Linked DNA regions of Homo sapiens. The protein of the gene in region 3 interacts with the protein of the main gene of each other region in a pairwise test. Each region holds a gene or a part of one and is shown on either strand. Other genes may lie near its edges. The genes, in order: SP6, MYBPHL and MALSU1.

Region 1 (11,762 bases), on a different chromosome or scaffold from region 3:
TCCAGGTTGAGGGCTGGGTCTTTTTCCTCTCCCAAACTCCCCCCCAACCCCAAGATTCTCCCATCTTTTGGACTGGACCTGCTACCTAAGCATATGGAACCGATTGAAAGAATTTGTATGCTCACCTTATAATTTATGCAAATCAACTCTGTAATTAACTATAATTTGGAGGCATCCTTTGGTATTTGAGACATTTATCCATGAGGAAATGCCCTAGTGATAATGCTCCCGTATTAACATTATTTACTCCACCTGTGTGGTCTCCTCAGCTTGTTTCCCCTCCCCACTCTGATTTTCTGTGCTGGAAGGTGGGGAGGGACAGGGAAGCCCCTCCCTGGAGCCTGCCTCAGTCCTGATGCCTGGGTTCCCCCAGGGGGTTGTGCTGGCCCTGTCCTCCCAATTTTGCCTAAGATTGAAGAAAGAGGTCCAGCTCTGCCTCCTAAGCCCTCTAATACTCTATTCTCTCCTGCTTGATGGGTGGCTTTCTGCTGAGCTTTTACCTCTTCAGGGCCTCAGTGTTCTCATCTCTGAAATGGGGAGAGGAAGGACCTGTCAGGGCCTTTATGGGATAATTGCTGAAAAGTTAATGAAGAGACTGGGAATCCCCAGTCTAGAGGTTGCTGAGGGTATAGGGGAGGAGCAGGAGAAGAGTTTTGGGTAAAGACTCCCTGGCTCATCCTGGGAGGGAGGTAGCATGTAAGTCTTGGGGTACTGGGTTCTGGTGTGTGTAGAGGGGGTACAACTGCTCCTGTCCTCTGCCAAGGGCATTGGGCTGTGGTCAAAAACAGGATGTCATCCCGTGAAAAGTCCCCAGGCCACTCTCCTATGTGGGTCAGAGTTCACAGCTTCAGTGAGCTTTGGGAAACAAGTCTTACTCTTCTGTTTCATCTCCGTTCTCCTTCCTGGTCTTTTGTCCATCTCTGCCCTGGGACATGTTTGTGTTAGCCAGTATACCTAAACTTACAACCACCCTAAAATTAGGCTCATATAAATAGAGATCTGGGGGCTCCCCCTAAATTCACCTTCAGGCCCCTTCTCCCTTTTCCAGGCCACCTTCCTACCCTCTTCACCCTCCTGGAGTTCCAGGAGTCCTGAACTGTCTGTAGCAGTTCTTGGCTGGACTCTGCCTCTGGTCTTTCTGGTCTTAGGTGACCTCTTGTCCATCCTAAGCTTCCCCACTCCATCCAAAGTCAGGGAAAAGGTCCTCCCTTCCCATTTGACAATGAGAGATCCCAGGTCCAAAAGATAGATTACACTGGGTCCTCTTGGGGGATCCAAGTTGGGAAGTGAGTATGTAAAAAGAGGATGAAAAGGGAGCGAGAGAAATTGTGGCTCAGAGAGGCCAACAACACTGACATGAAGCTCTGCAAGGAGGAACTGACTTGAAGACGTGTGGTGTGTGTGTGTTTGTTGGGGGCATGAGCCCTTCAGGTCTCAAAAATGGAACTTCTTTCTCTCTTACCAAGTCCATGGAGGAAAACTCAGGAAGAGGGGATGGAATTTGGAGAGTTCCAGCTATCCCAGCTCTCCACCCTAGCAATGCTGTCATTTCCTCCATCCTGCAAGAACCACTTTGTCCCTCTCCCACTGCCCAGCCAACTCTGCGGAAGGAAGGAAGTGCCCCCAGCCCCCACTCCCAGCTGAAATCCTCCTTTCCTGGCAGACCTCACGGACTCAGATCTCACCTCCTACCACTCCCCTAGGAGAGCTGGGGGCCACTGTTTCCTGGATTATCCTAAAAGCTTCTGAGGCCGTGAGGACTTGGCAGCATCCCTGCTCCCTCCTTCACCTCCCCCTTTGGCACTGCCTGTCACCTCCTTTATAAAGCCTGGCTCTTTTATCACCGCCACTTGGCCCTCACTGCCGCCGCCAGCTCTGGGCTCCATGGACTGGTAAGAGAGGCTGTTCCCTGTCCAGTACAGGGGACCTCCACAAAGAGGATCAGGTCTCCACTCTAAAGTGGGGGTCATAGAGAAGGGTCTGGTTCTCTCTGAATTGGGAAGGGGGAGATAAGAGGGAGATCTTGGTGGGGTTTGCATGGAGAACTAAAGGGATCCCTTGGAGGTCTTTTGACTGGGCTGGGGTAGTCAGCCCAGTGGAGAAGTGGGGTAGGGATTCATAGCTGGGAACTTTATTTCGAGAGAAAGGAAGGGCAAATAAATGTTAATAGAAATACAGGGCACACACACTCACTGCCCTGAATGACAGAACACCTGCAAGGATAGTAAGGGAGAAACCACTATCCACATCCTATGGGGAACTGCATTTACGGTGGAGGAGAGAAGACACCCTACACTCAAGCCCACAGGTACACACAGGCATAATATGTACACACATTTGTAGATATACACACACCGACATACAGATGCACTATCCTCAGGTGGGTTCATCTTCTAGACTGAAAAGCGATGGTGGTAGCTAGGGATTTTGAAATTTATAATAAAATTAGTGTCCAGCATTGTGCTTGGCCTTAAGTAGACCCTCGATAAGTGTTTGTTGAATGAAATAAAGGATGAATGAAAGAAAACTATTTGACCCCAGCTTTAGGCTCTATCTGGTTTTCTAAGAATCAGGAGAGTATGGTGGGGAGAGGAGGGGAAATAAGGAATATGTTGGCATCCAGGGTCATCAGCTTGCAGGCTTGGAAGTGCAGCCCGAAGGTGGGAGTGGGAAATGGAGGAGAGGAGTGAGTGAGAAGAGGAAAACAGGACCAGACTCTGGTCTGGTCCCAGCTCTGCTTCTAACTTGCTACTAACGTCCCTGTTTTGGGGTTTGGTTTCCCTACCAGTAAAACGAGGGCTTGGACGAGACAATTTGGGGCTAGACCAGCTTTGATATTCTCATAGTGCAATCTCTACAGGACAGTTGAAGTTTGGAAGGGATCACAAGTGTAGAGTCTGACTTGTCTCAGCAATTCAAGATGGGATCAGTTTGTCCATTAGACTCAAGATAGGAGATGGCTTTGATCTAGGGATTCATTTAAGAATGCTGTTTCCTCCACCTTCAGGCTCTAGGGGAGCCAGACTTCCAGGGTCATCAATTCTGCCATATTGAGGCCAGATGGACTAGTAGGCAGAATACAGGCTTTGGAACCTGAGAGATCTGAACTCAGTTTCTTCTTCTGTCTTTTAACAACTCTGTAATCTTGGGTAGATCATTTAACTTCTTTGATCTTTGGCTTCCTCATCTGTACAACGGGAATAATAATAATTACTTTGCTGCATGCCCATGAGAATTAGAGATATTTGTGTAAAGCATCTGGAACATAGTAGGTGCTCAGTAAATAAATGCCGTTTGTGATAAACACGCAGACTAATGAGATTTCTCCAGGTACAAAGTGGATCACTGACTATAGATGAAGCTTGAGAAGAAGAGGGGTGGCAGGAATGGGGGTTGGACACTTGCAGGGGAAATCTGACTATTTATTTGAGAGAATGAGGAAGAGCAGCAGAAATGGCCCAAGTCCAAGACAGATCTCAGTTTATACAGGAGATGTGATGGGCTGTGTTGTTCAATTTTGAGTAGCAATAAGTATATGGGCAATGGGCTGTGGTGACCTTGCTCATTAAGTTAACATCAGACCATGCGCCGTCATTCGGTGGGAAAACATTTAGCAAGTGGGAAACCAAAAGGGCTGGAAGCAGAGGACTGCAAGTAGAGGGGGACTGGAGGAAAGATAGTGCCAGTACCCTGAGTGAGCAGCAGAAACCTAGGCAGAGCAGGAAATCAGAATGGCTGGGAGTTTCCAGAGACAACTGCATTGTTGTTGAATTTCCTGCTGATGAGCTGCAGGCAGATGGAGGGTCTTTGCTGGTGGAATTCCAGATGGCTACAGGTCTGGTTGGATCGGGGCAGGGCTAAAGGGGGCCTAGAGTGAAAGTAGCAGGGAGTGTCTACCATCCTCGGGCTGAATCCCTGTTGCTTTCCAGGGAAAAGGCAGAAGGGGCCAGGAAGAGAAGGCAATCTGATGCCTATAAATGGGAGGGGAACTTGGTCCCCTACCCAGAGTCAGACCCCTGCACAGGCTTTAGCACCTTAGGAACAGTAGATGCAGCACCAGCAGGCAGCTTGGAGGAGGAGGCAGGAATGCCCAGAGGTCAAATCAGGAACCAGAGTCCCCCACTGGGGGCTCTGTTTTGGACCTGATGAGTGTCTACTCCATTCCAGAGGTAGCTGTGAACTAGGATACAAACCCAACTGGCCAGGATTTGTAGGCTGAATGGATGGAGACAAAGCTGCGTTGATGAAGAGGATTGATTGTCAAATTAGCCATGGCCACAAAGATCCAGAGCAGTTCCTGTGAATCCACATCCAGAGCCCCAAGTAACAAGAAGGCAAAAAGCAAACCCCGACTGATCAGAAATCTCAATCCCCCGATGTCAGGCGGCATCTCCGGCTTCCAAATACCTGTCACTTCTCTAGCTTGGTGGCTGCTTTTACAGCATTTCACCAAGGAAGAAACTGAGGCTTAGAGGCACCTGACCTGCCAGGGTCAGTTTAGCAAGTGCAGGGCTGGGGCTAGAATTTAAATCCGTCAACTTCTAGTCCACAGGTCTTTGTGCATACACCTTAATCCAACCAATATTTACCTGGAACTGACTTATTTAATAATTATAACAAGGATATCTTCCATTTACCCGGCGCTTACCAGGGGCCCCTTGGGCTAAGCATTTTTAGGCATATCAATTCCTTTAAGCCCCCAGGAGACCCTACCAATGTGTACCCAGGTTGTCCGGATGAGGGAAATGAGCCTTAGAAAAGAGGGAGATGCACAGATGAATCCGACGTCGATTCTGGATAAGAACGTGTGCGTGTCTGAGGGGTACCATGCACATACGCATACACACATGGATTGATTTTCACCCCGCTTATGCACTCGGTTTAGCTATTTTTGAGTTACAGTTTGAGTGTGTCCCAAACGGGCATGCAGGACAGGTAAACCAATGGCGGGGGGGAGTAGGGGCTGTAGAGGCGAGATTAAATCAGCCTAAATTCAAGTATGAAATCGACTGTAAAGAGGAAAACGAAATTTTAAAAAGCCGACGGCAAAGCGCACAGAGGAGACGAATCTGAAAAATGAAAGAAATAGGGAAATTAATCTGCATTCCCCTGTGAAAAAAGGGGTCACATGGAGAGATCAACACTGCGGCATGGGAGTGAAGCATGGGGCCACCTCAGCGGCCAGGCAGAAGAATGCGTGGGTGGAGGACGGAACTTCCCTACCCACCGGTGCTTTGCGGGTCTCGGAAATGTCGACCCATCCAGATCTTGAGGGAAGTTTTTGTGAGCTCCGCGAGCGCGCTGAAATTTTACCAGAATATTGCACTGGGCATGTGAATTTTTCTCAAAGGAATCCAAGACCCCTCCCCAAAGTTAAGAACCTTGGGTTTAGTTATTCTGGTGAGAATTAGAAAGGAATGGTGGCAAGGGATAGCTCAATTCCTTCCAGAAGTGTCCCTTCCCAGGGCCATTCAGGCGCCTGCCCATTCTTCAGAACCGGGTGCTCGGGGGCGAGGGTGTGCGTAGGCTGAGCATTTCCCGAAGGACAGGAGGGCGAGGAGAGGCGAATTTGAGAGGTGGATTTCTTAGGCACTGGGGTTGCTACCTAAGGGGAGGGGCAGAGTGACAGCTGCTGGGACCTGGGACCAGAGTAGGGGGGAAGCAGAGACCGGTGGTGGGCAGAGGCTGGGAGAGGGGAGGAGAGGAGGTGGTCACCCAGAAAGGTCAGAGAGGGATACCCCGGAAGGGAGAGGGAAAAAAGGACGGGGAAGGGTGGTGGTGGAGAGAAGCGGCGCGGGGTGCGGGGGGTGAGGCAGGGCAGGGGACGGGGGTCGGGGGTCGGGGGAATGGCGAAGGAGGGCAGCCAAGACAAATTTCACACGGCCTAGGCCTAGAGGCGAACTGGAAACATACTTGGCGCTCAATCTTGTTTCCTTCTTTCCTCCCAGTTCCGGGGCAGGGCTGTCCGTTCAGAGAGGGTCAAGGGCCATCGAGGCAACCTAAGGGTTGCTGCCTAAGGGTGGCTCTGTCTCACCCCCAGGACCTGCCCCCTTATCCATTCCCCCTGGGTCTTAGTCCTGCGTCCTCTGCTAGACCGAGCTAGCTCCAGGGCAGTTTTCCACCCGGCGGGGCGGGTCTTAGAACCTGGGAATCACCCCACCCGGGCCCCTCTCCCTGGGAGTGGAGGGGACCAGGGAGGAGCGAGGGAGCGGGCGGCGCACGCCCTAGTTATCTTTCCTCCCCCACTCCCGCCCACCCCCTCCTCGCGGCCCTGGCTGGGCTCCGGTCCAGCCGAGCCCTCAAGGGTTAAAGGCGGCCGCAGGTGAGGTGGGCGGGGCCGCGAGTCCGGGGGAAAAAGCAGCGCTGGGGAGAGGATGAAGGCAGAGAGCGCGGGTGAGTCACGGGCGGAGCTGGCCTTGTTCGCTCGCTGGCTCCTGCCCGCCCTCCGTCCTCCGCCCTCTCGCCAGCGCTCACCTCCGCCGCCTGCCGCCTGCCGCCAGCCGCCGGGTCTGGCTCGCCCTGGGCTCCTGCCCCTTACCGCTGGAGAGCTCGCCGGCGCACAGGGCCTATGAGCGACCGTCAGTAGCGCACCAGCCAGCCGTGCCCGGAGCCCGCCGCAGCCTCGAGGTAGGAGCGCGGGTCGGGGTGGCCAGGGGTGAGCGCTACGGAGATTGTCTCGAAAAAACGCACTCCGAACGCGCCCCAGCCTCCTATGGCCTTGGGAGCGGGGTGGTCCTAAAGGATCTGAGAGGTTAGAACCCCGATGGAGGGAAAACTGGGCGGACGGGAGAGACTGGAGGGACCGAGGAGGCTGGAAACCGGGGCAACTGGAGCGACTGGGACAACCAGAGGACCGGGACATTGAGAACTGGGAGTACTAGCCGGTGATCCAGAGAGGCAGAGCCGAATGGGGCATAAGGGTGCACCGACTTGCCTTCCCACTTCGGGGAGCGAGAAGCCTGCGATGTACGCTGTGCTCTCTCCTTTCCTGAACTCTTTCTAGGCCTGGAAGTGAACCGGACACATACTTGGCACTCAATCCTGTTCCCTTCTTTCCTCTCAGCTCTGGGGCAGGTGGGTCAAGGACCATAGAGGCAACCTAAGGGTTGCCACCTAAGGGTGGCTCCATATCACCCCCAAGACCTGCCCCCTCCTCTATTCTCCTGGGTCTTAGTCTTGCATCTTCTGCTAGACTGAGCCAGCTCCAGGGCAGTTTTCCACCCAGTGGGACTGGTCTTAGAACCTGAGAATCACCCCGCTTTGGGTTTCTGAAATCTTGGTAGCAGGCCATTGCATCCCAGGCCTGGGCTCTCCAGCTCTCTGCCAGGAGAAGCCACTCTGGAGCCCAGATTATCCTAGCCTTCCCATCCTCCAGCCCCTGGGGCAGTTCCCAGGCACCAAAAGCTGTTAGGGTCCCTGGCTTCACAGCTCCCGCTCAGCCCCTTCTGTGCTGCCCCACCCCGGCCTGGGGCTCCTTTCCTGCAACTTCACCCTGTTTTCCTCTTGTGGTGAGGCAGCCGGAGCCTGAGTAGGTGCCCCCGTCCTCCTCTCCCTCCCTCTCCCAGGCTATCAGTGCCACCTCCCTGGTCCCAGAGGCAGGAGATGGTAGGGTCAGCTAAGCCCTGCTGTAGGAAGGAAACAATCCTGCCCTAAGTCACTGGTCTCCTCCCCCACCAGTAGAGAAGACCCAGGCACACAAACCTGCCCAGCTGAGGCACCAGGGCTTCCAGGCCTTAGGGAGAGGTGGTGAGAAAAGAGTGAACTTCAAGCCACAGATATGTGGTTGAGAAAGCGTTGGGGGTCTTTAGCGTTCTAAGGGTCTACAGAAAGATTGGTTTACAGAAAGTAACAGACTGAGAGTCCAGGAGTTAGGAGACCTGGTTTATTGAATGAATAAATGAACATCCTTGTCCAAGTCACTGTGCCAAGTCATTCAGTCTGCTTCCTTCTCTTCAAAATAAGAAGATTGGCCTGGAGCAGTGGTTCTCAACATTTGCTGCATATAAGAATCTTCTGGTGGTGGTGGGGAGCTTCTGAAAAATGATCCATGCCTAGGATGCACTTGCTTATGTCATCTTTTTGGGCAATTCTTGCTCTTAGGTTCTGTGGTTATGACTTCTCTTGTTGCCCTCCTCTTCCTGCACTCTGACCTTGTATCACTTAAAGGGGTGCAATTGTATCTTCCAGAGCTTGCTGTCAAGCTCTTCTCTGGGGAAGCCATTCCCTCCCAACTTTCTATCTGGGCCTCCCCTAGCATGGAGAGGAAGATGGGTAGCAGTCAGAGAGTTGCCTGGCACTGGTATGAGTCAAGAGAGGGATGGAAATTTGGTTTTCTCTGGTGGGGGTATCTCCCAGATTCCAGGGGTATCTGGTGGCCAGAAAGCTGCTCCCCAGGGAGGTGAAGTCCCTGCTTGAGGGAAGGGGGTGGGGGCATGTGAGTCGGTTTAGTGGGCCCGATGTGACCAGGCCAGGCGGGGAGCAGCGTAGACGGTGAAATGCTTTTCATTACTGAACATGCTTTGGGAATGGCATGAGAACTCTTTCAAAGACTCAGGACCCGTTTGAGGCTTTATGAGGGGCAGGTCACCTGAAGCTTTGGGTTTCAGAAATAGACCATCCCCTCTCCCATCTGTATCCTGAGTTAAACTGGGGAAGCTGAGATGTGTCTAGATCCTCCATTTGGGCTGACAGCAGGTCTGCAGGGGGAAAATGCCACTGCCCCTTGTGTTGGCCTGGGCAGCTGGGGTGGGGATGGTTCTAGCACTGTGCTGTAGGTGTATCTGACCTACCATCCTGGGAGTGGCCCAACTCTAGGGATGAGCTGGGTCATACGGCAGGGATCACCCAGAGGAAGGTAGACCTCCATCATCCTCTGTGCTTGGATGAGAACCTCACATCTTGGACCCTTCCTCGCACTCCCGAATTCTCTAAACTCATCTCTAGTCCTCGTTCAGAGGTGCATCCTTCTTTTACACCTGGGGCCAGAGAGGAGGACCTGGGTTAGGAGGGAAAGTGAGCTGGTTATTTCCCTTACTTTTCTGCTTCTTCGCCTCCTTTAGGTCCCGTCTGAGGTGCCCCTGACCGTCCCTGCCCTCACCCCACCCCGGATCCCGGCAATGCTAACCGCTGTCTGCGGCTCTCTGGGCAGCCAGCACACGGAAGCGCCGCACGCCTCCCCGCCGCGCCTCGACCTGCAGCCTCTCCAAACTTACCAGGGCCACACGAGCCCTGAGGCCGGGGACTACCCCTCCCCGCTGCAGCCTGGAGAGCTGCAGAGCCTCCCGCTGGGCCCGGAGGTGGACTTCTCGCAGGGCTATGAGCTGCCAGGGGCCTCCTCGCGGGTAACCTGCGAGGACCTGGAAAGCGACAGTCCCTTGGCCCCGGGCCCCTTTTCCAAGCTCCTGCAGCCGGACATGTCACACCATTATGAATCGTGGTTCAGGCCGACTCACCCAGGCGCGGAGGATGGCTCGTGGTGGGACCTTCATCCGGGCACCAGCTGGATGGACCTCCCCCACACTCAGGGCGCGCTGACCTCACCTGGCCACCCGGGGGCGCTTCAGGCGGGCTTGGGGGGCTACGTCGGAGACCACCAGCTTTGTGCCCCGCCACCCCACCCGCATGCGCACCACCTCCTTCCAGCTGCCGGAGGGCAGCATCTCCTAGGGCCGCCCGACGGGGCTAAGGCCTTGGAAGTAGCCGCCCCGGAGTCTCAAGGGCTGGATTCCAGCCTGGACGGGGCGGCGCGTCCCAAAGGCTCCCGGCGGTCGGTGCCCCGCAGCTCAGGCCAGACCGTCTGTCGCTGCCCCAACTGTCTGGAGGCGGAGCGACTGGGGGCTCCATGTGGGCCCGATGGGGGCAAGAAGAAGCATTTGCACAACTGCCACATCCCGGGCTGCGGGAAAGCCTACGCCAAGACGTCGCACCTGAAGGCGCACCTGCGCTGGCACAGCGGCGACCGTCCCTTCGTGTGCAACTGGCTCTTCTGCGGCAAGCGCTTCACGCGCTCGGACGAGCTGCAGCGCCACCTCCAGACCCACACCGGCACCAAGAAGTTCCCCTGTGCAGTCTGCAGCCGCGTCTTCATGCGCAGCGACCACCTGGCCAAGCACATGAAAACCCACGAGGGCGCCAAGGAGGAGGCGGCTGGGGCGGCCTCGGGAGAGGGCAAGGCCGGCGGCGCAGTGGAGCCCCCCGGGGGCAAAGGCAAACGCGAGGCCGAGGGCAGCGTGGCTCCCTCCAACTGAGCTCCTCAGTGCCGCCTCCCTGCGGGTATCCCGGGGGGCACTGGATGCGAGCCCCCAGGTCTGACGTCCTTGGGGGTGGCTTGAGGAAGAGGGGAAGGTGCGTATTTATTCAGGGAGGAGGAAAAGTGGTGCAGGGACAGGGAGATGGGGCGCTAGGGGTTCTTAGTCTCTGGGGCTACTAGGCAGGATGAATTTGACTGGGTCGGTAGGAGCTGCGCAATGCCCCTCTGTTCTCCCCTGCCTCACAGTTTCCCTCGCCCCTGGGCTGGGGGGTTGGGGTGGGACACCCGTACCGCGGCTGGCTGGCGGGGACAGGCTAGAGGAGACAGCAAGTCCCAGTCCCCGGAGCAGAGAGAAGTGGGGCCGGCCCGGGGCGCTGGTGGTGGCTGTCTGGACACGTCCTTAGCGCCTGGGAACCAGGACATAAAAGCGCCTCCGGAGCCGCCCTGCGGCGGGGTCCCTTTCATCCCACTTAAAGTGCTTCTGCCCCTAGGGTTTCCGGAGGGAGAGCCGAGATGGGATGGGGGAGCCTGGGGGTCCCCCTTGGCAGGGGTGTCTCTTTCTGGTTTGGAGGGTTGTTGCTGTAAAAATAACTCCTTTGATGAGCTTCCTTATTAACCCTTTCAGACCCAGTCTGTTGGAGCCATGAAGGAAGAGGGAAAGAGGGCTGCCATTCCTGACAGCCTCCCAGCCAGGGCTGGCGATAAAGGACCGAGATAGATGGAGGGGGCGAGTAGGGAAGTCCTCTTCTAAAATGAGAGATAGGGATTTGGTGGGGTATGGAAGGAACTAACCCCTTCCCTCTCCACCTCTGATTCAGCCCTTAATTCTTGGTCTATGATAAATAAAGTTCAGTAGTCTCACATTCCCCATCTATTACCCTAGGTGTGTTTTCAAGGCAGCCAGCGGTAGAATCCATGTAGTTCCCACCAGTTGCCTTCCCCTCAGGGATGGAAGGAAGAGGGTTTCTTGGGCTGGTTGAGGGCAGATTGGGGGTGTCTCATCAGAGGGACCTCCACTGGTTCCCACTCAGAGTGGAGGCCTGCAGCCTACCTGACCATCTCTTTAGCTGTCACCAAGAAAATAAACCCCACTGTCTCTCTAGCTTGGCCCTTGTCTTTCCCTTGCCCCTGCCATAGCATGTTCATTAGGGGATTCCTTCCTCCCCCTCATCTCACAGGGGAAGGGAGAGGAAAGAGTTGTTCTCCCACTGGAAGGGGTTCTGCCTTCTGAGGTGACATCCAGGAAGCTGTCCCCATTCCCTTCTCCTTTAGATGCTAGAAACACATTTTGATTCTGATCATGGGGTGGGGGAGAGAGGAAAGGAGGGAGGGGAGAAGCCCAGCAGAAGCTGAGCCAGGCAGAGGGGAAAGAAGCTGATATGAGGAAGGGTCTGACAGGCCACAGCCCTTGCAGCCGGAGGGCTTTCCCACACTCAAGAGAGGGGCCTTACAGTCCCTCTGACACCCCTCCCCCTTCCCCTCGCTCCCTTTCTTCACCCGGAGCCCTCTGCAG
Region 2 (11,119 bases), on a different chromosome or scaffold from region 3:
ATGGCATGTACAACACGTATAGAAAGATGGTTTGCTAAGTCTGGAAATCATGTAGGACCTGTAGTATGTGACTAGCACCTGCTGTGAGCTGGCCACTTTCCTATAGATTGTATCATTTTATCCTCAACACAATCATGGCATCATCCCTTGTTTCATAGACTGGGACTTGAGACTCCGAGTCGGCCATTTGCCCAGAGTCCCAGCTGGTGAGTGAGTGGTACAGCCAGAAGTCACACGCAGGTCTCTGAGCTCGCCTCCCTCCACCACTGCTGCCTCTCCCTTTATTTGTACTTCATCTAATAGGCAAGGCAGCCATTGACAGCTCTCAAAGGGGGAAGTGCTGGCCTGACCTAAAAATAGCTTACATTTATCAAGCACTTAGTCGGCTACACTCTGCTAAGCACTTTACAGAGATTACCTCTTTAATCCTCACAACGACCCTATGGTTATAATTATCTCCATTTTACAGATGAGGAAACAGACTGAAGAGAGACTGTGAGGTGTTGTGAGTCACACAGCTAGTTGGTGACAGAGCCCCAAGTGGCACCTGGGCAGCCAGTGCGAGTGCAGTCTCCACCTACCACTGCGCTGTGCCCGCTGCCCCCGGGGAGCGGGGGAGGATGGGACAGGCCCTGTAAAGGTCGAGTTGATAAGACTTTACAATTCATTGAATGTGGGAGCAGAGGGAGAAAGAGCAGTTCAGGCGTTGCTGTGAGTCAGCTAATCCTGGGCCCCTTCTTTGGGACCTGAATGCCCCACGGGATGAACTGGAGGTCAGGAGCAGAGATGTCACTCAACCCTCCCTACAGAAATTAGAGGTCCCTTTTGGATGGTGTGTTCAAGCTCTCCCTCCCTGGTGCTGTGGGGGGTGTCATCTCTCTCCCGAGATAACAGGGACACCTCAGTCCTCCTGGGGCTATTCTGGGCTGCTGTCTGATCCTCCTCTCTCCCCCAACCCCTACTTCAGCCTTTCTGCTGGGCGTAGCTGAGTGGGGAGGGCCAGCCCAGTTACGTAACCCTGTGGCTGGGACCCGGGAGGCCAGCCTGGGAGCAGGTGCTCAGCCCCTCCCTCATCACCAGCAGTGAAAATCTAGAGCTGGAGCTCAGCCTCTGGGAAGGCCCAGCATGGAGGCAGCCACAGCTCCGGAGGTGGCCGCAGGATCCAAGCTGAAGGTGAAAGAAGCCAGCCCAGCGGATGCTGAACCACCCCAGGCTTCACCTGGACAGGGGGCTGGCAGCCCCACTCCCCAGCTCCTGCCCCCTATAGAAGGTGACCCATGGCAGGTGGGGAGGGTGGGGAGGCCGGGTGGTGGGAGTTGGGGAAGACATCGCCACCTTCCTGAACGGCGCCTCAGGTTTTCTGCAGAGCTAAAGACTCTATAGGATTGGTGATTAGGCTGGAGATCATTCGTGAGAGCCCCCATCCCCTGTCCTTGATGGAGTCTAACTTGCTGCTCAAATGTCCCTGCTAAGTTTTTGTGTTTTAGCTGAGAAGTCAGTGATGGTGTTGGTGGCACTTTACAGTGACTAAAAATGATCTGTTTATATTTTTACCTTTTAAAAAATTGTCATAGGGACTGGGAAGACCTGATATACTAATGGCCAGTCAGGAAGGGACTGAGGGGTAAGAGATAGTGACTGTCTGCTGAAGGAACAGGGAAATAAAATGCTATGGCAATGGGGAGGCTAAGAGTGGGGCAGCACAGTGACACTCGGCCTCCTGCTGGGCAGTACCACGGGGTCAGGACCTCCTCCAATCCCCCACTGCTCCCATAGGAGATCCTGACCCCTCAGAGTCTGAGCTCCACGGAAGTGGAGCTCTCCTGGGAGAAGCATTCAATTTCCCCTTCACGATGGTCTCTGTGTGCCTCTCAGCAAAGAGGCGTTCCCAAGTGAGGAATTCCAACCCCGAGCTTCCTGCCGCCCATCCCTGAATGCCCTGGCTGAGGCCTCTGTAGCTAACCACTTCGTGGCGCTCACCTGAAAGTCTTAAGAGGATGAAAAGACCACAATCAAGAAACACGTGGACTCCTAGGGCAGGAAGAGGCAGGGGAAAAGATATACTAGACTTGGAGGCAAAGCTCTAGGCTCAATTCCTAGTGCCGCCTCTAACAGCCCTGTGACCTTGGACAAGTCACTGGACTGCTCAGTTTCCATTTTCACTCTGTAAAATGGTGATTAATAACATCTACCTATCAGGGTAGTTGAAAGGATTGCTGAGATGATCCAGGGTGCCTTGGAAGAGGCCAAACTAAGATGTAAATAAATGATCAAATATTTCCAAGTGAGAGGTGAAGGCTGCGTTCTACCTCCATAGGGTTGTGCAGCAGACTCTGTCTGCCTCTTATCCTCATGGGAGAGGCCAGGTTTCCAGAAACTATTTGAATGTCAAGGGCAGAGAGCTGGCCAAGTTTGTCCCGTTGAAGATGAAGGGAGCAAAAGTTAGTGTAAATATATTAAGCTGGGGTGATGGAGGCAGAAAACCAGTTTCTTCCCTTAAAAGGCCCAGAGAATAAGTGACAGGCAGCAGGAGAATGAGAGCCAGGACTGCTGACGCCTCAGCTCTCTCTACTGGTCTTCCCAAAAGCACAAGGGAGAGTGCTCATCTCCCCCATGCTTCTCCCCTCTGGCTGCAGCCAGCTCCTGACAGCCCCCAGTCACGGGCCCGCAAATGCAGCCCAAAGCCTCTCGTGTGCAGCAGCTCTGTACACTGCAGGCCTCAGGGCCACTAGCACCCAGTGGCTCAACCCAGTGGTATCCCAGAAGTCACTGGCAATAAGAACACCTTTGAATACTTTGCAAAATATATGTGCATCTGTTAACTACTTGGAACAAAGAAGTCATGAGTTCAAATCTTAGCTCTGTTCTGTGGCCCTAGGCAAGTCAATCCACTCCCATTTTCTCATCTGTAAATTGAGGAGTTGAACCAAATCAGGGTCTTAACCTTTTGGTGGATATGGACCCCTAGGAAAATCTAATGCCAGCTGTGGACTCTTGCCCCTGGAAAAATACACAAAAAAGTTCAGAGAGCCAACAGAGCCCCAAACCCCCACCAAAGATCCTTCAGGGTGCAATGCATGGGCCTGGACTAGATGACCCCTAAGCCCCCTGAGAGCTCCAAAGCCTTTCTTCCTCCTAACTCCTCTTCCTTACAGAGAGCTCTGGGACTGAGTATCACAGGAAGCATGTGAAAACATGGGAACTAGAGCAGGCATCAGAAATAGAAATTAATTTGCAAGATCAAAACCAACTGCAAATGGCCAACAATGAGCTTTTAGTTTGGCAAGCCTGCTACATGGCTAAATAAGCAGGAGTAGGTGGCCAGCATTGGTAAACAGTTCTATGTCTGTCCTCAGCACTACACTGAGTACTGTGTCCTGGAGACAAAGCTTGGCAGGGGCCAGAGAAGAGCTTCCAAAACAGGGAGAGGCTGGGGAACAAGCTGCATCCCTCCCATGGACAATGTGACACTCGGCCTCCTGCTGGGCAGTACCACGGGGTCAGGACCTCCTCCAATCCCCCACTGCTCCCATAGGAGATCCTGACCCCTCAGAGTCTGAGCTCCACGGAAGTGGAGCTCTCCTGGAAGAAGCATTCAATTTCCCCTTCACGATGGTCTCTGTGTGCCTCTCAGCAAAGAGGCGTTCCCTGGGACCCTGAGGTGGAGGAGAAAGAGCCCATCTGCTGACTTCAGCATCATCGCTCCAACTGACTCTGTGTTCTCTTTCAATCTGAACTGTTCTGTGTCTTCCAGGCATGGGAAACTGAATCTCATGCCTAGGAGTGACCTTTCTTCCCTCCTTCCTTCCGTCCTTCCTTTCCTCCTCCTTCCTTCCACAAATATTTAGGTTGTGCCTATGATGTGCCAGGCGCTCTTCTAGGTGCCAGAATTACAGAAATGAACAAAATAGGTAAAAATAACTGCCCTCATGGAAGTTAGATTCTAGTGGAGGGAGCTAGACAATAAATAAACAAGTAAAGTATCTAATATGTCAGATGGTGAGAAATGCTGTGCCAAAACTAATGCAGGGACGGGGATAGAACGTGCTTCGGGTAGGAAGCATGCAGGCTTCCTGCTTCAAATGGAATATTCAGTGAGGGTCTCACTAATAAGGTGACATTTGAGCAGCAACTTAAAGGATGTGAGAAAGCAATGCATGCAGATATTTGGGGGAATATTTTCCACACAGAGAGAACAACTGCAAGGACCCTGAGGCAGGAGTGTGCTTTATGGGTTGGGGCCATTGTGGCTGTAGCACAGGGAGGGAGACAGTGGCAGTATTTCAGTCTGAGAGGTAGCACGGCCGCTGTGAAGACTTTGGTTTGTCTACGAGACAGCCAGCCAGCCAGTGCAGGGACTGGGAGTAAGGACTGACAGGACCAAGTGTAGATTTTAAGGATTTTTCCAGCTGGCCATGTTAAGAATAGACTGTAGGTGGGCCTTAGACACTAGCAAGATCGACAACTGGGAATGAGAATGAGGGAGAAGGTAGGGAGGTTTTAGAAGAGAAAGGTGTGCGATAGTCACCCAGGACAATGGGAGACCGAGTGAACTTGGGAAGTCTAGTAGAATTGCCAGAGTTCACTTGGAGGTGGTGGTCACTATTAATGGCCCTCAAGTTAAACTCCATATAATTTTGTATTTTCCCCCAGTCCTGTTACTCTGTGCAGATACAGCCACTGAGTGGGTGGGAAGTTTATTTAACAAGGGTTAGGTATTGCCAAGAGAGTGCAATGAAGTCAAAGAGGACTCAGGGATTTGAGTGAGTGCAAGAGAGAGAGTATAATAATGACCGTGCAATCTAAGTTGGGTGGTGAAGAAAGTGCTAACATGAAAGGGGTGCTAGGTAGTGAGAGGGTGGTAGGACAATGGATCACAGATCTCAGTGGTGCCAAAGAATTGCTGGTGTTGGAGCACTGGAGGAAGTGAGCTAAAGGGATAAAGATTATATTAGTTAGGTATACTAGTGAATGAAACAGGTCTCAGGAATGACATACATCTATTTCTCACTAGCGTAAGAACTAAAAACTATTCTGCAGATAGTTCTCCTCCATGTGGTAATCCAAGGACCCAGGCCTCTTTCATCTTGGGGCTCTGCCATTCCTTAGGGCCCGTGATCATCTGTGTACAGCTAGCAGAAGAGGAAAATAGAAATCTAACTTCTTCAAAGCCTGGGACCAGATGTGATTCTCACCATTGCCACTTACGTCTCATTGGCAAAAACTGGTCGCGTAGCCATCCAGCAAAAGGTGGCCGGGCAGCCACTTCTCAGAGATAGCTACGCTACGGAAGGGGTAACATACATTTTTTTTGGCCAGTTAGCCATCTCTGTTATAGAGGTGGTGATGAGACAGTGGGATGCTTGTAATTCTGATCATAGAAGGATTGTAGCTCTTGGTCTAGAGAATGGCCACAGGGACCATTGGCTGAATTAGGAGAGGACAAAGTTATTGGAGGAGTGGTGGGCCAGATGTGAGAGACCCTACGGGGACTGGAAACATGGGTGTTGGGACCAGCAGGAGTTATGCCTGGAGAGGCATACCGCATGGAGAGGGTGTTGGAGAGACAGTGAGCCAGGGCTAAAACCATCAAGCACTAGGGGGACGACTGTAACATAGGGACGGGGTGGGGTGGAGTCTTTTCCTCAGAGAAGTGTTGCCTGTTCCTATGTCCTTTTATTTTTTCTGACCTTAGTTTCATGGCCTTCAAGAAAGTGACACTCTTGTACCACTCCTTTCCCATTGCACTCCTCCAGACAGGTTTCTGAGTAGACCAAGGCCACATCCTAGGCATCTGGTAATGTTTCTCTAAGAAATCCCGGTACTTCTTGGATTTCTGGAAACCTCTGGATAGTTTCAAAGCCATAGCTAGCCTCCTGCATTCGCCCTCTTTTGGTAACCCTTCACCCACATAGGCACGTGTGTATGCAGGCTCCCTCTCTCTCTCACACACACACTCTCATACACACACATACACACACCATTCACAGACACACGTAAACACACCCATACACACATTCATGCACGTACACAAACACACACATTCACACACATACACTCACACACACATACATACACACTCATACAAACACACACACACCCTCTCCACTTCTCCAATGCTTCCATCTTGGTTCTTGGCTCTCCAGGTCATAGTTAGTAACATCGGTCTGAACTATACAGCCCCTAGGGAGCCTCTGGAGAAAGACTGATCCCATAAAAGGGAATTATGAGAGGATAGGAACAATTATAGAATAGTAAAACAGGCATAAACTTTAGCAGGATAAAAGTAGGGTAGGTATTAGGAGGAATTTTCTAATCAGAAGTCAAGATCTTTGGACTTGAAGTAGTTTTCTCTCTTTTTTTTTTTTTCTTTTTGAGATGAAGTTTTGTTCTTATTGCCCAGGCTGGAGCGCAATGGTGCAATCTCGGCTCACTGCAACCTCTGCCTCCCAGGTTCAAGCGATTTTCCTGCCTCAGCCTCCCAAGTAGCTGGGATTACAGGTGCCCGCCACCACACCTGGCTAATTTTTGTATGTTTAGTAGAGATGGGGTTTCACCATGTTGACCAGGCTGGTCTTGAACTTCTGACCTCAGGTGATCCACCCTCCTTAGCCTCCCAAAGTGCTGGGATTACAGGCATGAGCCACTGCGCCCGGCCTGAAGTAGTTTTCTCTAAGAATTTTTTAGAAAGAATTAAACAGCATCCTGTCTGAGAGAAACATTGTACAGAGAGAGCCTAACTCAGAACCAAAGGCCCTCAAAGGACTTTTCAAGATGCCTTTTCTCTAAGACCCCATGAAGGGAGAAAACCAAACTGTGACTCTCACAGACCTGCTCTTAGAAAACCTAGGCTCTTAAAGACTCTAGGCTTTGGTTCACATCCCTCCTGTCATCTAAGGAGGAGAAAGACCTTGGGCATCAGGGGAAGCCATGCCTCCCCAAGGTCAGTACAATTTACACCTCGCTTGACTGCGGATGTGTGAAAAGAGATGCCTCAAATGAGCCCCGGCGTTCACATTCTTAGCAAAGAGTCAGATTGCGCCTGGGTTGGGTTGAGAGGCGATTGGAGAGCATGCTGCTGACCTGCTGACTGGGCATCTGAAGCTGCCACACTCTCTCCTGCCACCTCTGCACGTAGTCAGCTGAGTTAGCCTCACGTCCATACTCTGCCCTCCCACAGGGAGCCGGGAGCCTGCTGGGAGCAGAGGCCTCACCTACACATCCTCAGAGTCCATTCTAGAGACTTAAGTTTCGTCATCTTGTCAGGAAACCCACTGATAAGCAGAGAACCGGCAATGGAGCCGTCCAGGGAGGGAGAGACTGCCGTCCTCGCGGGCAGCCTCCTTCCTTGCTCTCGCGGGCAGCCTCCTTCCTTGCTCTCTGCCCAGCCAGGATCCCCTCTAGATCCAAGGGCCAGTCTGCTCCTCTTCCTCTAACTCCCACACCTTAGCTTATGTTCCACATAAACCCATTTCTTTCATTTTTCTCTTTAGTTCAGGTGTAAGAATGCTAACATTTTCCCAGGTGTTTTTCTAAGAAACAAAAGAAACACTAGGTGGAAACACATACATCAGCTCACAGCTACCCATAACAGCCCATTCCCTACCTGAGGTCTCAGCAGGGCGGGGCTCAGCGGGCACTTCTGTCAGGCATGAAGGCCTGGGTTCCTCTCCCCACCTCAACCCTTTGCAGTTCTTGGGTATGTCTAGCCCCCGCCTTCCCTCTGGGCCTCCTCCCTCCAGGGGCAGGCCACTGTCCAAGCCCTGACTATGGTGCTCATTGCTGGGTGGACACTGGTGGGCAAGACACAGCTAGTGCTCTGAGAATGGGTCCTTCAGACACACAATCTTAGATGGGGAGGCAGGAGTCTCTGGTGCCAGGCACGTCGTCACAGCTAGCCGGGAGGTCTCCAGAATACCGGCTTCTTTCTCGGAGCCCTCTTGCTCCCAGCATCCTTGTTCTGGTGCTTACAGGCCCTTCCTAATGCCGACATTCTGTAGGCAGGCGGCACAGGGACAGCAGAGCCAGCTTCTCTCCAGCCCTCTCCCCAGCAAATGTAGAAAGGGTTATTTCCTCCCCCAACAGTGGGGAACCAAGCCTGACAAGATGAGGTTTTGACCCTCCTTTCCAAGTACGGCCCTCTTTTTCAAAACACTATTAAGTCATATCCGCCCGTCTTCAACTCTTTGGTTGCTTGCCAAGATGGCCACAGGAGAGAAGCCCATCACACAAACGCTTCTTCTGTTCTTCATGTCCCGCCCCTCCCAAGCCACCAGAGCCCAGCCGAGGGCAGCCACAGCAGGGTCACTCAGCCGCCTGCAGCTGCTGCATCTATGCTGAGGCAGTCAAGACCTGAGCAGGGCAGGGAGGACGGGCACTCAGGCCCATCAAGTCCCCTCGTCACATATTCCTGAGGTGCAGTCTAAGACAGGCACAGCCCAGGTGAAAACATAAGCCACACAGCACAGAAGGAAACTGCAGAAACCAAACGGACCGTGTGCACTGTACATTGCCATTGATCTTCATTTGCAAAGGTCTCGCGACCTTGAGATTATCATGGGGAGACTCAGAGTGAAGTTCTCTGGACAATGCTTGCTGATTGAGCTGGAGGAAGGACACAGAAGAAGCTCTGTTTCAGTTGCGTCACTTACATGTTTGTGTTATGTAATGTATGTATTTAAACAGTTCATCTATAAGTAAACATACATATGTCATAGTGAATGCTCAGGGAAGTATTTTCACAGAAGTGTGTGCTATCAAAGAGTCTGGAATCCACTATCGAGCAGTCATGCTGTTTGCCACAGGAATGTACCAGGGGTGAAGTTCTTCCAACTGCCAAGAATGAACTGTGGCAAGAATCCTGGGTTGTTGGGAACTGAAGCACTATCACATTCTACTGAAGATAATATCAGCCAGGCGACTGCCTGTGCCTGAGAAAGGAGGAGACAGCAGCCAGGAAAAGGCCAGAAAATGGTGTCTGTCTCAGCCAGGCCCCCGAGGGAACGCAGGTGGAATGTTTGTGCTTCGGCAGCTGAGACAGTGTGAGGCATCCCAAGAGGAGAGAAATGATACCTGGTCAATCTCCAAACCTACACTCAGCACTTTTCCAAGCATTTCCTGTCTTCATCCTGGAAGCCCATACACATCATCTAATCTCTACTTCTCACTGGGACAGACCTGTGAGATCAAAGGGAAATGAGTGGTGGACCTAATCTGTCCCAGAATCTGTACAAAATGATCCTCTGCAAACTGGAAGAAGACTGTGCAGGCGCCCGGGAGCAGAGTGGCCATGCAGAGGAAGGGACCCAGACACGTGCTCTGTCTGCAGTGACATCAGTGTTGTCTCCGTGGGCGGCTGGGAGGTCAGGGTGTTGACTCTGCCTGCAGAATGGAGAGCATTCTCCTGAGACCCACACCTAACTGGGAGGTCAGGATTGACATGGAAAGTGGCCTTGATAAAAGGAATGGTATTAAGGACAAATGTAGAAAAGGGTGGAAAGACAAACCACACAGACCAGGCTGGTCTGTACACAAACAGAAAAATAAAAATGCCTCCATCAGGATGGAATGCCTCCAGATGATGGAAAGTCAGTACTTGAGAGTTACAAATTAAGAGAACTGTCAGACTCGCACTCCAGTGTTCCTTCTGCTGAGACTTTAATGTTTCCCGGGGTGTTCCTTAAGCCAACCCCTCATCCCCAAATCCCAGCAGGATGATGGGAGCACTCTTCCCCTCCCCTCTAAGAAGGGCTTAATTTGGTGACCGATTCCTGGGCCACTCACCCACAGCAGGCAGCTGGATGCAGGATTTACTTTCTCTGAGTATCCATCTCCTATTCTCTCTCTTTCCATCACTCAGAGCACCCCAAGATCTGGCTACCTCGGGCCCTGAGGCAGACCTACATCCGGAAGGTTGGGGACACAGTGAACCTACTAATCCCATTCCAGGTGATCATGCCAGCCCCATACTGGGTCCATGTCTGGGGCCAGTGCAGGTTTTGGATTTGGAAACAGATACCAAGAGTCCTGCTAGCAGAGGGGCAATCTTCCCAGCCTTGGATAGAAGGGGTCACACCACCAGAAGTCTGAGGCCAAATGACCTCTGCACTCCTGAAGGTGGGTTTGGATAGGACTGGGTGTGCACCCATGAGATGGTGTGAGGCTAATCCATGCCCTTCAGTCTACAGAAGCCTCAGAGCTTGCAGTTAGAAGGGTTCTTGGGAGTTTGAGTGGCTATTCAATTGGTCCCAGCTGCCCCGGGTGTTCATGACCTAAGCTCTCAGAGATTGGGAGACTCAAAGCCATCCCTCTTTCCCAAGATCCTTAGGCTGTTGCTGAAAGGAGGAGGCCCCCGGGAGGGTCCACCAACTTCTAACTCAAGGAATGTGCAGCTCCAAGTCAAGCCTCCCTGTGGACCTGGGGTGGACAGGACCCCTACAGCAGCAGGGAGAGTCAGGAAGCCTCTCGGGGCTGCTCAAAGCATTACCCTCATTCCTCAGGGCAAGCCCAAACCTCAAGCCATCTGGACACATGATGGCTGTGCCTTGGACACCAGGCGTGTGAGTGTGCGGAATGGGGAGCAAGACTCCATCCTCTTCATCCGAGAAGCCCAACGTGCTGACTCAGGTCGCTACCAACTCCGCGTGCAGCTGGGTGGGCTGGAGGCCACCGCCACCATTGACATCCTGGTGATTGGTACGGTGGGGGAAGTGGGAGATGGGGGGGTCCTCAGGAACTCCCTCTCCAGGCTGAAGAGGAGCCAGCTCAGAGAGCTGGGGAAGCTGCGGCAAGGCTCCCACGTCATGTCTGGGACACAGGGTGGGCGCAGGAGGGGTAACTGAGGAGAAAAAGGGGCTAGGGCACTCCTGAAGTGACTTCAATGCATGTGGGATGTTCCACGCCCACTGCCATGGCTTTGCCCTTTCAGAGAGGCCAGGCCCTCCTCAGAGTATTAAGCTGGTGGACGTTTGGGGCTTCAGCGCTACACTGGAATGGACACCGCCCCAAGATACGGGGAATACAGCACTTCTGGGATACACGGTGCAGAAGGCTGACACAAAATCCGGGGTGAGGCCAGCTGGGAAGGAAGGAGGGTGGAAGAGGGCATGTTGGGACAGGC
Region 3 (7,010 bases):
TAGGTTATTAATTGCCTTTAACTGTTTTCATCAGAAGAATATGGTTTATCCTTCTTTCACCAAGCATTCAGTTGCCTCTACTGTGATGGGCAGTAGTTATTGTCAACCTTTTAGGACTTCTAACTGCTCTCTTCTATGTTATTTTCAACAATCTATGAAATGTAGATGTATCACTGCAAAGGGCTATCCCACTTGGATTTGGGCCATCTTTCAAGTTAACTGACCTTTTCCATTTCATACATGAATGACACTAATAGGATGTGTTTTCATCTGCAGGCTCAGGGAAGAATTTATGGAAAAATTAAAGAAGAAAACTTTGTTAGTCCTAAAGAAGAGGTGAAACTTGAAGCTCATATCAGAGTGCCATCCTTTGCTGCTGGCAGAGTTATTGGAAAAGGAGGCAAAACGGCAAGTACTTCAGCAAAACCTGTGCAGTGGTATGAAAGGGAAAGCGTTGAAAGGTACTTAGGAGTTCCAAGTCCCCGAATTTTGGCTAATTTATAAAAAGCAGGACCATCTTGACCAAGGTTTGGAGAAGATTGCCTTTTGTTTCCTGTCTGAGTGTTGGTGCCAGCTATTAGTGAAAGTAATGCATCTCTTTCAGATCACTTTGTGTGAGAGGATTGTCCTATATTTATAAAGGGCATTTAACGTTCTCCTGATAAAACTTTAGCTTTTTATGGAACAGACACTTAACAGGAATTTTAAAAATTTCATCTACAGCTTGTTACATCTGTAATGGAAAAAAAGCAAACTGTTTCTAGTCTCTAATACATATAACTTGTAAGTGGGTTTCAAAGCTATTTATAATTTTGAAGTGATTGAGTACATACACTTTGGAATCAGACTCAGGATTTGAATCTGGTTTTGCCATTCACTTGTATAACTGGACAAATCAGTTTCTTTGGATGAGCCTTAATCATCTTGAAGTGGGGATAATTCTAATAACCTCATGGAATTACCACTGGATTAAATGAAATTTGTAAAGCCATACATAGCTCACTGTCTGGCGCACAGTAAGTGCTTAGGAAGTAAGGTTTTAAAACTGCCACTTAATGTGATTTATATTTATCTCTTTCAGGTGAATGAACTTCAGAATTTGTCAAGTGCAGAAGTTGTTGTCCCTCGTGACCAGACACCTGATGAGAATGACCAAGTGGTTGTCAAAATAACTGGTCACTTCTATGCTTGCCAGGCAAGTGGGCTCTAAAATAAGCTATTGTATCTTTCTCACGTGGAAGCAATTCTCCCACAGGTGCTCCTACCTGATAGAATTAGTTAAGGTTGTTTGATGCTTAAGACTTTTCATCTCCCTTTTAGCGGGTGATTTCAGAGACTACTAGCAAACTGACTAGTATGTATCTTTAATCATCAAATGGATTTCTATTTGAAATTGTTGAAATGAAGGAGTACAATAACTTTTAGTAGCTTTTGATCAAGTGGAATTTCAAAGCTCTGTCCTTTTCTAGGTTGCCCAGAGAAAAATTCAGGAAATTCTGACTCAGGTAAAGCAGCACCAACAACAGAAGGCTCTGCAAAGTGGACCACCTCAGTCAAGACGGAAGTAAAGGCTCAGGAAACAGCCCACCACAGAGGCAGATGCCAAACCAAAGACAGATTGCTTAACCAACAGATGGGCGCTGACCCCCTATCCAGAATCACATGCACAAGTTTTTACCTAGCCAGTTGTTTCTGAGGACCAGGCAACTTTTGAACTCCTGTCTCTGTGAGAATGTATACTTTATGCTCTCTGAAATGTATGACACCCAGCTTTAAAACAAACAAACAAACAAACAAAAAAAGGGTGGGGGAGGGAGGGAAAGAGAAGAGCTCTGCACTTCCCTTTGTTGTAGTCTCACAGTATAACAGATATTCTAATTCTTCTTAATATTCCCCCATAATGCCAGAAATTGGCTTAATGATGCTTTCACTAAATTCATCAAATAGATTGCTCCTAAATCCAATTGTTAAAATTGGATCAGAATAATTATCACAGGAACTTAAATGTTAAGCCATTAGCATAGAAAAACTGTTCTCAGTTTTATTTTTACCTAACACTAACATGAGTAACCTAAGGGAAGTGCTGAATGGTGTTGGCAGGGGTATTAAACGTGCATTTTTACTCAACTACCTCAGGTATTCAGTAATACAATGAAAAGCAAAATTGTTCCTTTTTTTTGAAAATTTTATATACTTTATAATGATAGAAGTCCAACCGTTTTTTAAAAAATAAATTTAAAATTTAACAGCAATCAGCTAACAGGCAAATTAAGATTTTTACTTCTGGCTGGTGACAGTAAAGCTGGAAAATTAATTTCAGGGTTTTTTGAGGCTTTTGACACAGTTATTAGTTAAATCAAATGTTCAAAAATACGGAGCAGTGCCTAGTATCTGGAGAGCAGCACTACCATTTATTCTTTCATTTATAGTTGGGAAAGTTTTTGACGGTACTAACAAAGTGGTCGCAGGAGATTTTGGAACGGCTGGTTTAAATGGCTTCAGGAGACTTCAGTTTTTTGTTTAGCTACATGATTGAATGCATAATAAATGCTTTGTGCTTCTGACTATCAATACCTAAAGAAAGTGCATCAGTGAAGAGATGCAAGACTTTCAACTGACTGGCAAAAAGCAAGCTTTAGCTTGTCTTATAGGATGCTTAGTTTGCCACTACACTTCAGACCAATGGGACAGTCATAGATGGTGTGACAGTGTTTAAACGCAACAAAAGGCTACATTTCCATGGGGCCAGCACTGTCATGAGCCTCACTAAGCTATTTTGAAGATTTTTAAGCACTGATAAATTAAAAAAAAAAAATTAGACTCCACCTTAAGTAGTAAAGTATAACAGGATTTCTGTATACTGTGCAATCAGTTCTTTGAAAAAAAAGTCAAAAGATAGAGAATACAAGAAAAGTTTTTGGGATATAATTTGAATGACTGTGAAAACATATGACCTTTGATAACGAACTCATTTGCTCACTCCTTGACAGCAAAGCCCAGTACGTACAATTGTGTTGGGTGTGGGTGGTCTCCAAGGCCACGCTGCTCTCTGAATTGATTTTTTGAGTTTTGTTTGTAAGATGATCACAGTCATGTTACACTGATCTAAAGGACATATATATAACCCTTTAAAAAAAAAATCACTGCCTCATTCTTATTTCAAGATGAATTTCTATACAGACTAGATGTTTTTCTGAAGATCAATTAGACATTTTGAAAATGATTTAAAGTGTTTTCCTTAATGTTCTCTGAAAACAAGTTTCTTTTGTAGTTTTAACCAAAAAAGTGCCCTTTTTGTCACTGGATTCTCCTAGCATTCATGATTTTTTTTTCATACAATGAATTAAAATTGCTAAAATCATGGACTGGCTTTCTGGTTGGATTTCAGGTAAGATGTGTTTAAGGCCAGAGCTTTTCTCAGTATTTGATTTTTTTCCCCAATATTTGATTTTTTAAAAATATACACATAGGTGCTGCATTTATATCTGCTGGTTTAAATTCTGTCATATTTCACTTCTAGCCTTTTAGTATGGCAAATCATATTTTACTTTTACTTAAGCATTTGTAATTTGGAGTATCTGGTACTAGCTAAGAAATAATTCTATAATTGAGTTTTGTACTCACCATATATGGATCATTCCTCATGTATAATGTGCCCCAAATGCAGCTTCATTTTCCAGATACCTTGACGCAGAATAAATTTTTTCATCATTTAGGTGCAGCTTGTTGTGTAGTATGTTTTATTTTTGGTTTTCAATTGAATGGGAATGTTCTGAATTTTTTTTCAAACTCTACGCAGATTTCTGTTATACCATGTCCAGCCATGGTACTTAATGTGAACCTTGATAATACTCTTGCATATGAACTAAGAACTAGAGCGTTCAGAGTTTTTCCTAACAAACACTTTGTTTACTTTCTTGTGTTACTGGAGTATTCTGGAAGGGTTACAGAAGTCCTCCTAGAAGAATATTATCACCTCAAAGTATAAAAATAAGACCAGTGGGCTATGTTTTATATTATTTTTTAAAATTTTTGCCATTCCATTAAACAAACAGGGTTAAGATTTACATTTAAGCTAAATTAAATTAATAAAAATCTGAGCAGAGAAGTCAAGCACAGGAGCCAGTGCTAACTCCAGGAAATTCTGATGACATTTCCAGGATAAAGGCAGCGTGTCATAAGTTTTGGGTAGAATGTACTGATTTTTGGTTGCAGGTATAGCTCACTTATCGACAGTCTCTGCATGCCAGTTAGCAGGAGTGCCCATGAGGTACACAAGCCTTGTCCTAAGAGCAGCCTAACCAAGGAGACGGACTTTAGGAGCTGTATTTTCCAATAAGTGACTCAATCCAAATCTGAAATGACTAACGCAGTGCATAAAATATTTTATTCACATTTTAACTCCACTGGAGTCACAGATGAAGTATCATCTTCTATTCCAAGAATGAAGTCTTCAGGTACTGTCTCAGGTGCTATCTGAGCTAACTGGTCATCATAAGAACGTAGGGTCCATAATTTCTCTAATTCATAGATTTCTCTGGTTTCTGGAAGCATCAAATGAATCACCATGCTGCCTGTCAGGGACAGATAAGAGATACAATGAAGGAATAGTTCATTTGCTTTTATTCTTACCTTACAACACACACTGGCTAACTCTAGGAATAAAGCAGTGGTTCTCAAGTGTGGTTCCCAGATTAGCATCACTGTGGACTCCATCCCAGCAAAAATACCACAGAAGTGATGCTATGCCTTTCTCAGTGTACCTACAGGAGGCATATGTCAATATATAACATTGCTGGTGATAGTAACTTTATCAAAGAGACTAATGGTGTCAGGATTCTCTTCGGTGACAATTCTCCATGGGTAACACACTTCTGCACATCTTTTGTGCAAAAACACTGACTGCCTTTTGTTTTGACTATCCAAGAATGTTTGTATCGTGAATATTCTTAACAGAAAGATACTGCCTCCCTCCAGGGCAAAGGGCAGCTTTGCTTACAGCAGCATTTCTCAATTAGGTAATAATGGTAATGTTTAGAGTCATTTTTGATTGTCACAATTGGAGAAGGGAGGATACTGCTAAACATCGTACCGTGCACAAGAGACACCCCTCCCCCACATGCAAAATTACCTGGTCCAAAACGTTAATAGCGACAAAAGTGAGAAACCATCAGAGCAAAAGTAGGCCTGCTTCCTGCCAGTTATAAAAAACCTAGACACCCTCATCTGAGTTCCAGTTTTACAACTGTGTGTGCTGGTGTCATCTGGCCCATGTTGCCCTATGGAATCCAGAGCTCAGGAAACCAGTGCAAAATGGATGCTGGCTACTGCTGTGAGTAATAAACTGTTCTTTGTCTCTAACCCTCTAATAGTCTTGTCTTTTACCAGTGTCCATGAAAACTGGCGGGACAATGTATTAGCTTACAAGCAGAATAAAATCTCAGACTCCTCAGTTCTTGACATACAGTTATGTTTCCCCTTTGTAAATATTATCTTGTTGGGAGGTGCTTTGAAACTATGTACACATTAATACCCAAAGTTGTTAGATCTTTTCAAAATTCTAGTCTTCTGCTCTTGTCCTTTTTTGTGCCTGGAATAACCTCATCCTCATCTCATTTATGCACCACAGCCCCCAAACCTTCCTCTACCACTACTAAGGAATCTCTCCCGCCTCTACTATGTTATCCTGTTGTCCACCACCTTCCTGATCTGTGTGGCTAGTAGATACACACCATGTAGTATATATCTTCCTCCAGGAGGGCATCATCTAGGGTACTTTGGTTTGGTTAGGTGAAAATTCTACATGTGAATAAGACCACCTGGATTATAACTAAAAAAACTTTTGTTACCTTAAACACACTTCAAAAATCTTACCTGGAAATACATTCATCAATTTGATCTCAATCCTTTTGCAACTGAAAACAATTCAAGATTAGCGTAGTACCAACAGTTACCTGTAAAATACGCCAGAATAACTTACCAAAATCCACGCACAGCCAGTCATCAGTGTCCTTCCCTTCTATCTTAACATGAGGGTCACGTTTACATTTCAGGTGTTTGTACTGCAAAAAGCCAGGTGGTTTATTAAAGGGAGAGGGGATGGGGGAAGCCTGTTCTTGCTGAAGGTCTTTTTTTTTTGTTTGTTTGTTTGTTTTTTTTAATCTTTCTTACTCATTTCTCATTGCTATACTTTGCCCTGTGATGAATAACTTAGGGAAACTATTTCTCCCTCTAAATCTTATTCACTTTCACCTCTCTCCTGAATTCTCCTGCCCCAGCCCTTCTGAGAGGGTCACCCCATTCATTCACCAAGGTGCCTCTGAGGCTGAAAAAGCTAAGCTCAGTCAGCATTTGGTACCCACCTACATCCATCACTTGTGTTCATCCCAGCTTTCCTTCACCTTTAGGGGCTGCAGATACTACCTTCTGTTTATAAAGCCAGGTTGTTTCAGTGCCACTGATTTCATCTCATCTGCCTTTATGACATGTTAATGGGACCCCGTCATCCTATAAATGTGCTCAGTTCTTTTGTTAAAACAGATATACTAATATCAAACAAGATGGCAATTAAGTAAAAACTGTTACAAGAGACAAAGGACATCTCATATACATCACCCCAAAATCAAAGGAAATGATAATTAGGGCAGGAAAAAGACAAAATCAATGAAACTAGGATTTGGTTCTTAGAATGACTAAGAAAAAAGACAACTAAAATCTGAAATGAAAGAAGTGACACTACTGATTTTAGAGAAATGGGATTGTAAGAGTATTATGAGCAACTGTACACCAAACAACTGGGTAACCTAGACGAAATAGCAAAATTTCTAGAAACACAATCTACTGACTGAATCATGCAGAAATATAAAGTTTCAATAGACCATAACTAGTATGGGGACTGGATCAGTAATCAAAAATCTCCCAACAAAAGTCCTAGACCAGATGGCTTCCCTGATGAGTTTTACCAAATATTTAAACAAGAATGCAATACTCAAATTCTCCCCAAAAAATTG

What was found.
Region 1: the proteins of MALSU1 (region 3) and SP6 interact in binary tests that used the Homo sapiens proteins (3 or more experiments, as listed by UniProt).
Region 2: the proteins of MALSU1 (region 3) and MYBPHL interact in binary tests that used the Homo sapiens proteins (3 or more experiments, as listed by UniProt).

What each region holds. Positions count from the first base shown.
Region 1 is NC_000017.11:47,845,784-47,857,545, reverse strand, and holds the start of SP6 (transcription factor Sp6), read left to right. Parts: upstream 1-6,382; 5' UTR 6,383-6,627; intron 6,628-9,059; 5' UTR 9,060-9,116; coding exon 9,117-10,247; 3' UTR 10,248-11,762. UniProt on the Homo sapiens protein: Promotes cell proliferation. Plays a role in tooth germ growth. Plays a role in the control of enamel mineralization. Binds the AMBN promoter.
Region 2 is NC_000001.11:109,296,998-109,308,116, reverse strand, and holds the start of MYBPHL (myosin-binding protein H-like), read left to right. Parts: upstream 1-1,105; 5' UTR 1,106-1,125; coding exon 1,126-1,270; intron 1,271-9,859; coding exon 9,860-9,948; intron 9,949-10,499; coding exon 10,500-10,695; intron 10,696-10,927; coding exon 10,928-11,067; intron 11,068-11,119. UniProt on the Homo sapiens protein: Myosin-binding protein which plays a role in cardiac function. Seems to regulate conduction in the atria and ventricular conduction systems.
Region 3 is NC_000007.14:23,306,920-23,313,929, reverse strand, and holds the end of MALSU1 (mitochondrial assembly of ribosomal large subunit protein 1), read right to left. Parts: intron 6,063-7,010; coding exon 5,981-6,062; intron 4,575-5,980; coding exon 4,387-4,574; 3' UTR 2,201-4,386; downstream 1-2,200. Other genes in the region: IGF2BP3 (insulin-like growth factor 2 mRNA-binding protein 3), read left to right, coding at 277-408, 1,082-1,195, 1,470-1,568. UniProt on the Homo sapiens protein: Required for normal mitochondrial ribosome function and mitochondrial translation. May play a role in ribosome biogenesis by preventing premature association of the 28S and 39S ribosomal subunits.